3 linked regions of the Homo sapiens genome follow. The protein of the gene in region 2 interacts with the protein of the main gene of each other region in a pairwise test. Each region holds a gene or a part of one and is shown on either strand. Other genes may lie near its edges. The genes, in order: NQO2, HSCB and GFM2.

Region 1 (3,736 bases), on a different chromosome or scaffold from region 2:
TGAAAGACTTGGGTTCCTGGTGTGCATAGACAATGAGTACTTTCTTACCTAAATCAGGATAAGAAACAGTTCCTCTTGAAGAACAACCTCTCTCTGTTAAATTCAATGAAGACTAAGATGAAAATTGAATGTTCAGGTGCATCATAGTAATTGAAGCTAAGAAATATCAAATTTTCTTTTCTTTCTGTCTCTTTCTCTCTCTTCTTTTTAGACAGTCTCACTCTGTCACCCAGGCTGGAATGCAGTGGCATGATCTCAGCTCACTGCAACCTCTGCCTCCCAGGTTCAAGTGATTCTCATGCCTCAGTCTCCTGACTAGCTGGGACTACAGGTGTGTTTCGTGGGAAGTCAGGGACCCCGAATGGAGCAACTGGCTGAGGCCATGGCAGAAGAATATAAATTGTGAAGATTTCGTGGACATTTATTAGTTCCCCAAATTAATACTTTTGTAATTTCTTATGCCTGTCTTTACTGCAATCTCTGAACGTAAATTGTGAAGATTTCATGGACAGTTATCACTTCCCCAATCAATACCCATGTGATTTCCTATGCTTGTCTTTACTTTAATCTCTTAATCCCATCATCTTCATAAGCTGAGGAGGATGTATATTGCCTCAGGACCCTGTGATGATTGTGTTAACTGCACAAATTGTTTGCAGAGCATGTGTGTTTGAACAATATGAAATCTGGGCACCTTGAAAAAAGAACAGGATAACAGCAATGTTCAGGGAACAAGAGAGATAACCTTAAACTCTCACTGCCGGTGAGCCAGGCGGAACAGAGACATATTTCTCTTCTTTCAAAAGCAAATGGGAGAAATATCGCTGAATTCTTTTTCTCAGCAAGGAACATCCCTGAGAAAGAGAATGCGTCCCTGAGGGTGGGCCTCTGAAATGGCCGCTTCGGGGCGGCAGCTGTCTTTTATGGTCCAGCTGTAGGGATGAAATAAGCCCCAGTCTCCCGTAGCGCTCCCAGGCTTATTAAGACAAGGAAATTCCTGCCTAATAAATTTTGGTCAGATCGGTTGTCTGCTCTCAAACCCTGGCTCCTGATAAGATGTTCTCAATGACAATGGTGCCCAAAACTTCATTAGCAATTTTAATTTCGCCCCGTCCCGTGGTCCTGTGATCTCGCCCTGCCTCCATTTGCTTTGTGATATTCTATTACCTTGTGAAGCATGTGATCTCTGTGACCCACACTCTATTTGTACACTCCCTCCCCTTTGGAAAATCACTAATAAAAACTTGCTGGTTTTACGGCTTGGGGGCATCACGGAACCTGCCGACATGTGATGTCTCCCCTGGACACCCAGCTTTAAAATTTCTCTCTTTTGTACTCTGTCCGTTTATTTCTCAGACCGGCCGACACTTAGGAAATATAGAAAAGAACCTACGTGAAATATTGGGGGTGAATTTCGCCCAATATCTGGCTGAATTTCCCCCGATAGATGTGTGCCACTACGCCCAGCTAATTTTTTGTATTTTTAGTACAGATGGGATTTTGCCATGTTGGCCAGGCTGGTCTTGAACTCCTGGCCTCAAGTGATCCACCCGCCTTGGCCTCCCAAAGTGCTGGGATTACAGGCATGAGCCACCGCACTTGGCCAGAAACACCAAACTTTCTTTTCTTTCCTTTTTTCTTTTTCTTTTTTTTTTTTTTTGAAACAGAGTTTCGCTCTTGTTGCCCAGGCTGGAGCAACGATCCCAGCTCACTGCAACCTCTGCCTCCCGGGTTCAAGCAATTCTCCTACCTCAGCCTCCTGAGTAGCTGGGATTACAGGCATGCGCCACCACGCCCGGATAATTTTTTGTATTTTTAGTTAAGACCGGGTTTCTCCATGTTGGTCAAGCTGGTCTCGAACTCCCGACCTCAGGTGATCTGCCCACCTTGGCCTCCCAGAGTGCTGGGATTACTGGTATGAGCCACAGCACCTGGCCCCAGAAATACCAAACTTTCTAATAGGTGGCAGTTTTAAAGCAATGGGCATTTTAAAAATCCAGTTATTCATAGCTCAACATCACAATACAATGGGTCAAATTATATCTCCTCAAAAATACCACCACTAAATCTTTTAAAAGCCCAACCTAATTTGGTTATCCTCTGTAAGAAGGTTTAGACCAGCTCCCTAACACCAAAATAAAGAACTGCTGGAATTAGTCTTCCATGCTAACCCTACATTTGCAGATATCAGCTACAGGCACCTTTCAGTGTGGCACAGTTCTGCTTCCATCTCCCCCAGTCCATCAAATCTGACACTTAAACAAAACATGAGGAATCAGACCCGCTGGTCTCATGGGAAGGCAGGGCCACATGGAGCCCATCTTTCAGTGGTGATGCTGATAACAAAGAGGACTCTAGGAAGAGTCAGGCCCTCCTGGCACTGGCAGTATCGTTCACACCAGGGGCTTCTGAAGCAGTATTTTCCTCATTGGAAAGAGTCTCCAGGCTTATATACTGACTTCGTCTGGGAGGCAGCCTGGTGATTTGCTTAATTAAATTTACCCTGGTCACCTTTAAGAAGATGTTAAACTCTTGATTTAAATTTTTCATAATGACACTTTAAGGAAAAGATACACGTATCAGTTTGAAGCAATGGGTTTCAGGGCATTGAGCTGGCTACAAAGGTTGAATTCCATAAGTTAGATTCATGGTTAACATTTTAATTTTACTTTCTCAGACTCTTGTTTCAATAAAGGAACTATACTTAGGGGCTTAACAGGAGAATAGATGCAAATGAAATACCTACACCAATGGTTCTCAACTGGGGCAGTGTTGTGCCTGCTAGGGGACGTTTCTCAATGCCTGGAGACATTTTGGTTTGTCACAGCCGGTGGGGGAGGGGTGCTACTGGCATCTGGTGGGCAGAGGCCAGGGATGGTGCTAGGTGCTAAACAGGGTGCACAGGATGACCCCCCAAAACATAGGATTATCTGGCCCAGAATGTCAGTGGTGCCAAGGGCGAAAATCCGAATCTACACCATAATGTATAGAGTAAGGTGAACCTGTGCGTTCTAACACGAAAGGCTCTCCATGTTATATCGTTAGGTGAAATTAAAAAGTTGAGAGATTGCATGTTCATGTATATGTGCATGATAAGCAGTTGCAAAAGCAAAGATAGAATCGTACTGAATTTTTACCCAAGATGCCTCCTGGGGTTCATTCACTTGAGCCCCTGCTACAGCCCAGGGAGAATTTCAGGGCCTGGAGGCACAGCAAAGACAGGATAGGCAGGGCCCCACTTTTGAGGAACCTAAATTCTGGAGGGAGTCGAAAGGAACAATGAAACAAGTGAGAACATAGAAAACAAGATAATTCCAGATAGTTTATACACTTCCACGTGGCTTGGATTTTTTACAACAATGTATCCAATTTCTGATTAAGAGTCTAACTCCCACCTGGAAGGTCAATGTGGGAGGGTCACTTGAGCTCAGGAGTTTGAGACCAGCCTGGGCAATACAACAAAATCCCATCTCAAAAAAAAAAAAGTCTTACTCCACAATAGTGAATCATTACCTGCCATAGCGTAAGAAGGTGGATTCCTTCTCTCTGATTTGATGGGTGGCTGGGGCTTTCCTGCGTAGTCTCTCTTCAGCGAGTCCAGCAATCTGGAAGACAAAACGAACCCAGAGGGGGTGGGGAGAGGCATAGGTGAGGTCGAATGTACCACATCTAGGCATCACTGCTGCTTCCTGACAGACACGCAAACACATCAGAGAAAGACCTCTCAAGAGAGGCC
Region 2 (2,986 bases):
ATTCTCACAAGGAGCATGCAACTTAGAACCCTCACATGTGCAGTTCACAATAGGGTTCATGTTCCTTTGAGAATCTAAGGCCATAGCGGATCTGACAGGAAACGGAGCTCAGGCGGTAATGCTTGCTTGCTCGCTCACTTGCCACTCACCTCCTGCTGTGGGGTCCAGTTCCTAACAGGTTGGGGACCCTTGATATAGTCCACAAAGTTGAAAATATTCACTACCAGGCCCTTTGCAGAGAAGTTTTTGGATTCCTCTTTGTAGGGCCTCAAATTGGCCCCATCTCCACCTCTTCAACCATTAGCCTACACTGGGGTCATGTTGTATCAAGTATCAGATGAAGAACTGACCACCCAAGCTCTGACTAGGCTGTGTTTCTTCCCACATGACAAACTTTGCCATCCACTAATGCTTGAGCCATAGGCTTAATTAAGATGATATAAACGGTAAAGGCTTATCTATTCCCAATTACCAGAAGCCAGAAAAGAAATATACAAGAATTTTATTTTTCATTTATTTATTTTTCAAGATTAAGTCTCACTCTGTTGCCCAAGCTGGAGTGCAGTTGCGTGATCTCTGCTCACTGCAACCTCCACCTCACGGGTTTAAGCGATTCTCCTGCCTCGGCCTACCAAGTAGCTGGGATTACAGGCACGCGCCACCATGCCCGGCTAATTTTTGTATTTTCAGCAGAGACGGGGTTTCACTATGTTGGCCAAGCTGGTCTTGAACTCCTGACCTTGTCATCCACCCACCTCAGCCTCCCAAAGTGCTGGGATTACAGGTGTGAGCCACTGTGCCCAGCAAGAACTTTATTTTTTAAACTTTAAACTATCCACAATTAAAGGGGAATCTTCTTTAACTTGATCTTTTCTTCTATATTTGAAAAGTATCTCATCTTTGTCAAAATTTCCTTGGCTTCTTCAAAGTCATCTGAAATAGACAGAGACACTGAAGTCAGGCTTCATTTCAAGCAAGAATAAAACCAACTCTGATGACTAGGGCAGCGATATATAAGTGGAGCCCTGGGGTCCGGAGGGCTCATCAATTCCTCAGTAAGACTGAGCAACGAAGAGGGAGAACATCTGGATTGTTAAGGAGACACAGGGATAAACCAAATGGGGCGAGAGTTGTGTAAGAGCATGTGTACAGGATTCACATAAATTAGAGAAGTTGATTCTCTTCAGGACAGTCCCAAGTAATAAATGGGTGGTGGAAGCTAGATGCAGGAGCTCATACCTGCTATCCCAGCATTTTGGGAGGCTGAGGCGGGAGGATGGCTTGAGCCCAGGAATTGAAGACCAGCCTGGGCAACAAAGCAAGACCCTGTCTTTACCAAAAATAAAAAATAAAAAATAAAAAATAAAATAAAAAATTAGCCAGGCATGGTGGCACATGCCTGTAGTCCTGGCCACTCGGGAGGCTGAGGTGGGAGGATCCCTTGAGCCCAGGAGTTTGAGGTTGCACTGAGCTATGACTGTGCCACTGTACTTCAACCTGGGCGACAGGGTGAGACCCTGTCTCTTTAAAAAAAAAAAAAAAAGGGTGGGTGGTTGTGTTTTAAAAATTTCTCCCTAACATGTGGTGGTATACTGAGGATATGAAAGCACTGAATGCTTCCTCTATGCCAGGTGCTGAGGCATAGAGCTGCCTTCAGGGGGCTTACAGTTCAGGTGCTGAGGCACAGAGGTACCCTCCGGGGGCTTATAGTTCCCAAGAAAGACACCTTTAGACCGGTGATTTTCCTTTTTTTTTTTTTTTGTGAGATGGAGCCTCACTCTGTTGCCCAGGCTGGAGTACAGTGGCGTGATCTCAGCTCACTGCAACCTCCACCTCCCGGGTTCAACCAATACTCATGCCTCAGTCTCCAGAGTAGCTGGTACTACAGGGTGTGCGCCACCATGCCTGGCCAATTTTTGCATTTTTAGTAGAGGCAGGGTTTCACCATGTTGGCCATGGCTGCTCTCAAACTCCTGATCTCAAGTGATCCGCCTGCCTTGGACTCCCAAAGTGCTGGGATTATAGGTGTGAGCCACCATGCCTGGCCAGACCAGTGATTTTCAACTGGGGATGATTTTGCCCCCATGGGGACATCTGGCAATGTCTGGAGATATTTTTGGTTGTCACAGCTGGGAGGTAGTACTGACATCTGGTGGGTACAGGCCAGGGATGCTGCTAATCATCTTATAGTACTCAGGACAGCTCCCCCAAACGAAGAATTATCTGGCTTACAATATCCGTAGTGCCAAGGTTGAGAAAACCTGACTTAGATAAGTAAAACACAATGTGAAGAGTGCTAAAATGAAGATATGTTATAACCATTTGCATCATTCCAGATGACTCCAAAAATAAAATATTAAGCAAAAAAGTCACAGAAGGATATGTATTATTTATATAAAGAAAAATATGTGAGACTAAATAATATACTATTATGTACATATATGGTTAAAACTATCAAGAAAAGCAAGGGAATGAGTAACACAAAATTCAGGAGTGGTTACTGTGGAAGGGAGATGTAATGGCAAAATGTCAACCAGGGACTTGGAAGGCCTTGGTCGTATTTCATTTCTCAATTTAATTTATTTAACATTTTATTTTTTTGAGATGGAGTCTTGCTCTGTCACCCAGGCCGGAGTGCAGTGGCGCAATCTTGGCTCACTGCAAACTCTGCCTCCCCGGTTCACGCCATTCTCCTGCCTCAGCCTCCTGAGTAGCTGGGACTACAGGTGCCCGCCACCTTGCCCGGCTAATTTTTTGTATTTTTAGTAGAGACGGGGTTTCACCGTGTTAGCCAGGATGGTCTCCATCTCCTGACCTCGTGATCCGCCCGCCTCGGCCTCCCAAAGTGCTGGGATTACAGGCGTGAGCCACCGCGCCCGGCCTATTTAACATCTTTTTTGTATTCAAAAAATTTTAGGGCCAGGCGCGGTGGCTCACGCCTGTAATCCCAGCACTTTGGGAGGCCGAGGTGGGCGGATCATGAGGT
Region 3 (3,736 bases), on a different chromosome or scaffold from region 2:
TGTGCTCCTTATCTGAGGAACACGCTGATGAACTGAGCAAAGGAAAGGTTGGTGGCTTTAGTAGCTAGTTTGCAAGTTTAACATGTGAGTGTAATTGTAGAGTGCTCTTGTGAATTTCTTTTTCTAGTTTATTTCTGTTTTTTATGCAAGTGTTTTCTGTCAAGAGAGATTTACTAGAATAATTTATTTTGAGGATTGTTATAAGTAGTTTGGCTAAGTATTTGGGATTGTTTAGGTTAGATACATGGCATCAGAAGCTGGAAGGTGGAGGAGTTGACTTACTTTTGAATGTCCTTTCTGTGTTTGAAACAAGCAAGTGTATGGTAGACTCTATGAAACTAGTTTAATTCTGTTGCTGTTCTCATTACTGTGTTTGTCATGTGAGAATAATAGAATAAAAATACTGATTGGCTGTTGACTTACAAGGGCAGATTAATTTAATGGGCTACGTTATTGGTGTGTATCTAGGTCTCTGAATTTGGCTAATATGAATTTAACTGTAGTAGTATAGATTATCTTTTGATCTTCAAACCACCATGAAGTTTCAAAAATAATATAAAATTCTCCTTTTTGTATTATAGAAACATGGGAGAAATGGTTTAAATAACAGGAAGGCTTTAATTAAATTTACAAATGTAACTGCCTTGTTTCTTTAGAAATTACTTCTTAATATTAGTAAACTATATATTAAGCATAGAATAAGCCATATGGACTTTTTTATTTAAGAAATACTGCTTGGCCTTTCAAAAGTATTAAATTGTTATAGCTTCTATTCAGTGAAACCTCCCAGGCAGTCTTTAAAGGTATTGTGTCCTGGGATTGCTGAGGAAGGCAAGTTCCAAATTGTATAATAATTCATTATCAGCTGACATGAGGATCACTCTTAGCTCTTCAAACCCTGGAAAAGGCAGGTTTATAGGACTGTGCATTTAAAATTTTTTCTTTGATTCAGGATCATTGCCTTAAGATTATTATTATGAGCATTTATTCTAGTTCTACAATTTTGTAAATGGAAGTGAAGTAGGTGGCAGAGATTGGGGTGAATCTGTATTTTTCTGAGGATATGATCTAGAACTTGATGTTTAAAACTTTTACCTTGTTTTATTGTCATCCATAGCTTTCCTTATACATTGCAAGGAAATAAATTTTAGTTTATTTTAGATTTATTTAGCTTGAATTTTACTTTATTTGGACTTACAGTATTTGCTTAAAGTTATTTTAAAGTCTTTCATTTATAAATTAAAGGAAAATTTCATAAATGTAACAGTTCAATTTTAACTTTCTTTTCATTAGGCTTAATAGGAAATGATATCAAATCCCTTCATTCCATCATCAATCCTCCCATAGCTAAGTAAGTACTATCATTATATCATGCTTTTCCATAGACTGTCACGAAAATTTACAGGTTTTTTCTGATGGACAAGAGTGAATGCTGTAATTTCTATGACTTTCTGCCCTAGCCAATTTTAAGTAGATGTTGATAATGTATCTTAGCTATTTTTTCTCAATTAATGCTAAAAATTTTTAATGTAACAACAGCACACTTTTCTAGAATGAATATAAGATAGTCTCAAAATTGTAGGTTGTAGTTAGCCCTTTTGTTACTTAGCTATCTTATCAGAGTAATGTGGATATACTCTAAATGTTTTCCATTTTTCTAGTTTTTACACAGTTTTATAAATTATAGAAATACCAGCTTTGAAATTTGGATAGCATATATACTTTGGTTTTACAATTTTAGTAAAGTTTACCTTATTTTTTCCTTTTAAACAGAATCCGTAATATTGGAATTATGGCTCATATTGATGCAGGCAAAACTACCACCACAGAAAGAATATTGTACTATTCCGGATATACAAGATCACTGGGAGGTTAGAATGGATTCCTCCTCTTCCCACCCCCCCATTAGCAAAAGCATCATTGGAAAATATTTTGGTTAACAAGTCAACTTACACACCTTGAATATGGCATAGAGCTACTGATGTCTAATCCACAATTTAAAGATAAGATAGTTGCAATACCCACCAAAGGGTCTTCTTAGATTCAACTAAATATTCAGACTTGTAAGACTATCATAGGCCCCACTGGACACTCGTCTACTCAGAATGCTACAGGACAGGAACCACAGCTTACCAACAGACCAGCATTAGGTGTTTCTTTCTAGTAGAGTCCTTATAGCAGTCCCCGTAGCTATCTGGGAGCTATCTTCTTTGGCTGCTCCAGAGTAATGGATTAGATGCAAGGTGACAAGATTCATAGGAGCCACCCTAGCTTAGAAGATTCATGCCCCATAGGAATGAATGTCTCTTGTTATAACTTCATAGGCATAGCTTCCAGGTGTCACCTAAGGTACATGCCATACACAGGGAAGCCCAGAGTTCGGTATCTCCATAAGGTACTTATATATATAATTCATTTATAGTTCTTCGCAATTCAGATTTAGTTTACCAATCAGAAGTTGTTTTTTCCATAAGTTATATTGCCTAGGAATGTAGTTGACATACCTCTGTTATCTGGTTTCTAGAAGAAAAGAACCAAAAAAAGTAACCAGAAGTTAAATTCTCACATCAAAGAGGATTTTGTTAATCCTTAACCAAGTTATCTTTTGTCTTTTAAATTGTAGTTAAAAAAACATAAAATTTACCATCTTAACTATTTCTAAGTGTTAACTATTTTGGTAGTGTTAAGTATATTCACATTATTGTGCAACCAATCTTCAAAACATTTTCATCTTTCAAAATTGAAATTCTATACCCATTAAACAACTCCCATTTTCCCCTTTCCCCGGTCCCTTGCAACCATCCTTCTACTTTTTCTTCATGACTTTGACTACTCTAGGTACCTCATATAAATGGAATCGTAAGTATTTGTCTTTCTATGACTGGTTTATTTCACATAGTACAGTGTCCTCAAGGTTCATCCATGTTGTAGCATGTGTCAAGATTCCTTTTTAATTTTTTAATTTTTTTTTTTTTTTTTTTTTTTTTTAGAGACATAGGCTCTTGCTCTGTTGCCCAGGCTGGAGTGCAGTGGCCCAGTCACAGCTCACTGCAGCCTTGAACTCTTGGGCACAAGAGATCCTCCTGCCTCAGCTTCCTGAGTAGCTGGGACTACAGGCAGGTGCCACCACACTTGGCTAACTTTTGTATTTTTGGTAGAGACAGGGCCTCAGTGTGTTGCTCAGGCTGGTCTCAAACTGGGCTCAAGTGAAGATTCCTTTTATAAGGCTGAATAATATTCCATGTGTTTTTATTTATTTATTTCAAACTAATGCAGTTTATTATAACAAGAAGGAAATCAAGCTTTACAGTAATTATAGTCACTAAGCTGAAAAATCACCTACAAAAGTCATGGCAATAACTTATTTACAGTTAAAAAAGAGAATATCAAGATCTTGCTCTCATAGTAAGGTAAACTAGACATGTACACAATCTTATGATGCCAAGAAACTGAATATATAAAAATAGAACCCACATAGAATGTTCTCTCTCTCTTTTATATACACACACATTTGCTCTGTGATTGCCCTTAATTTTATGTCTTTATCATAACTGGTTTATTATATTTATAATTAAAGATAATCTTAGACTTTATATTCTAAAAAGCAACTAGGTTAACAGTTTTCTCCCCTAAGGCTTATTTTATTTTATTTTTTATTTCAATAGGCTTTTGGAGAACAGGTGGTTGGTTACATAAGTTCTTTAGGGGTGGTTTCTGAGATTTTGGTGCACCCATT

The links.
Region 1: the proteins of HSCB (region 2) and NQO2 interact in binary tests that used the Homo sapiens proteins (3 or more experiments, as listed by UniProt).
Region 3: the proteins of HSCB (region 2) and GFM2 interact in a two-hybrid assay, tested with the Homo sapiens proteins (one large-scale study listed by IntAct).

Annotation. Positions count from the first base shown.
Region 1 is NC_000006.12:3,006,337-3,010,072, reverse strand, and holds part of NQO2 (ribosyldihydronicotinamide dehydrogenase [quinone]), read right to left. Parts: intron 3,606-3,736; 5' UTR 3,521-3,605; coding exon 3,514-3,520; intron 49-3,513; coding exon 1-48. UniProt on the Homo sapiens protein: The enzyme apparently serves as a quinone reductase in connection with conjugation reactions of hydroquinones involved in detoxification pathways as well as in biosynthetic processes such as the vitamin K-dependent gamma-carboxylation of glutamate residues in prothrombin synthesis.
Region 2 is NC_000022.11:28,755,025-28,758,010, reverse strand, and holds the end of HSCB (iron-sulfur cluster co-chaperone protein HscB isoform 1 precursor), read right to left. Parts: intron 934-2,986; coding exon 842-933; 3' UTR 501-841; downstream 1-500.
Region 3 is NC_000005.10:74,756,984-74,760,719, reverse strand, and holds part of GFM2 (ribosome-releasing factor 2, mitochondrial), read left to right. Parts: intron 1-1,293; coding exon 1,294-1,351; intron 1,352-1,773; coding exon 1,774-1,871; intron 1,872-3,736.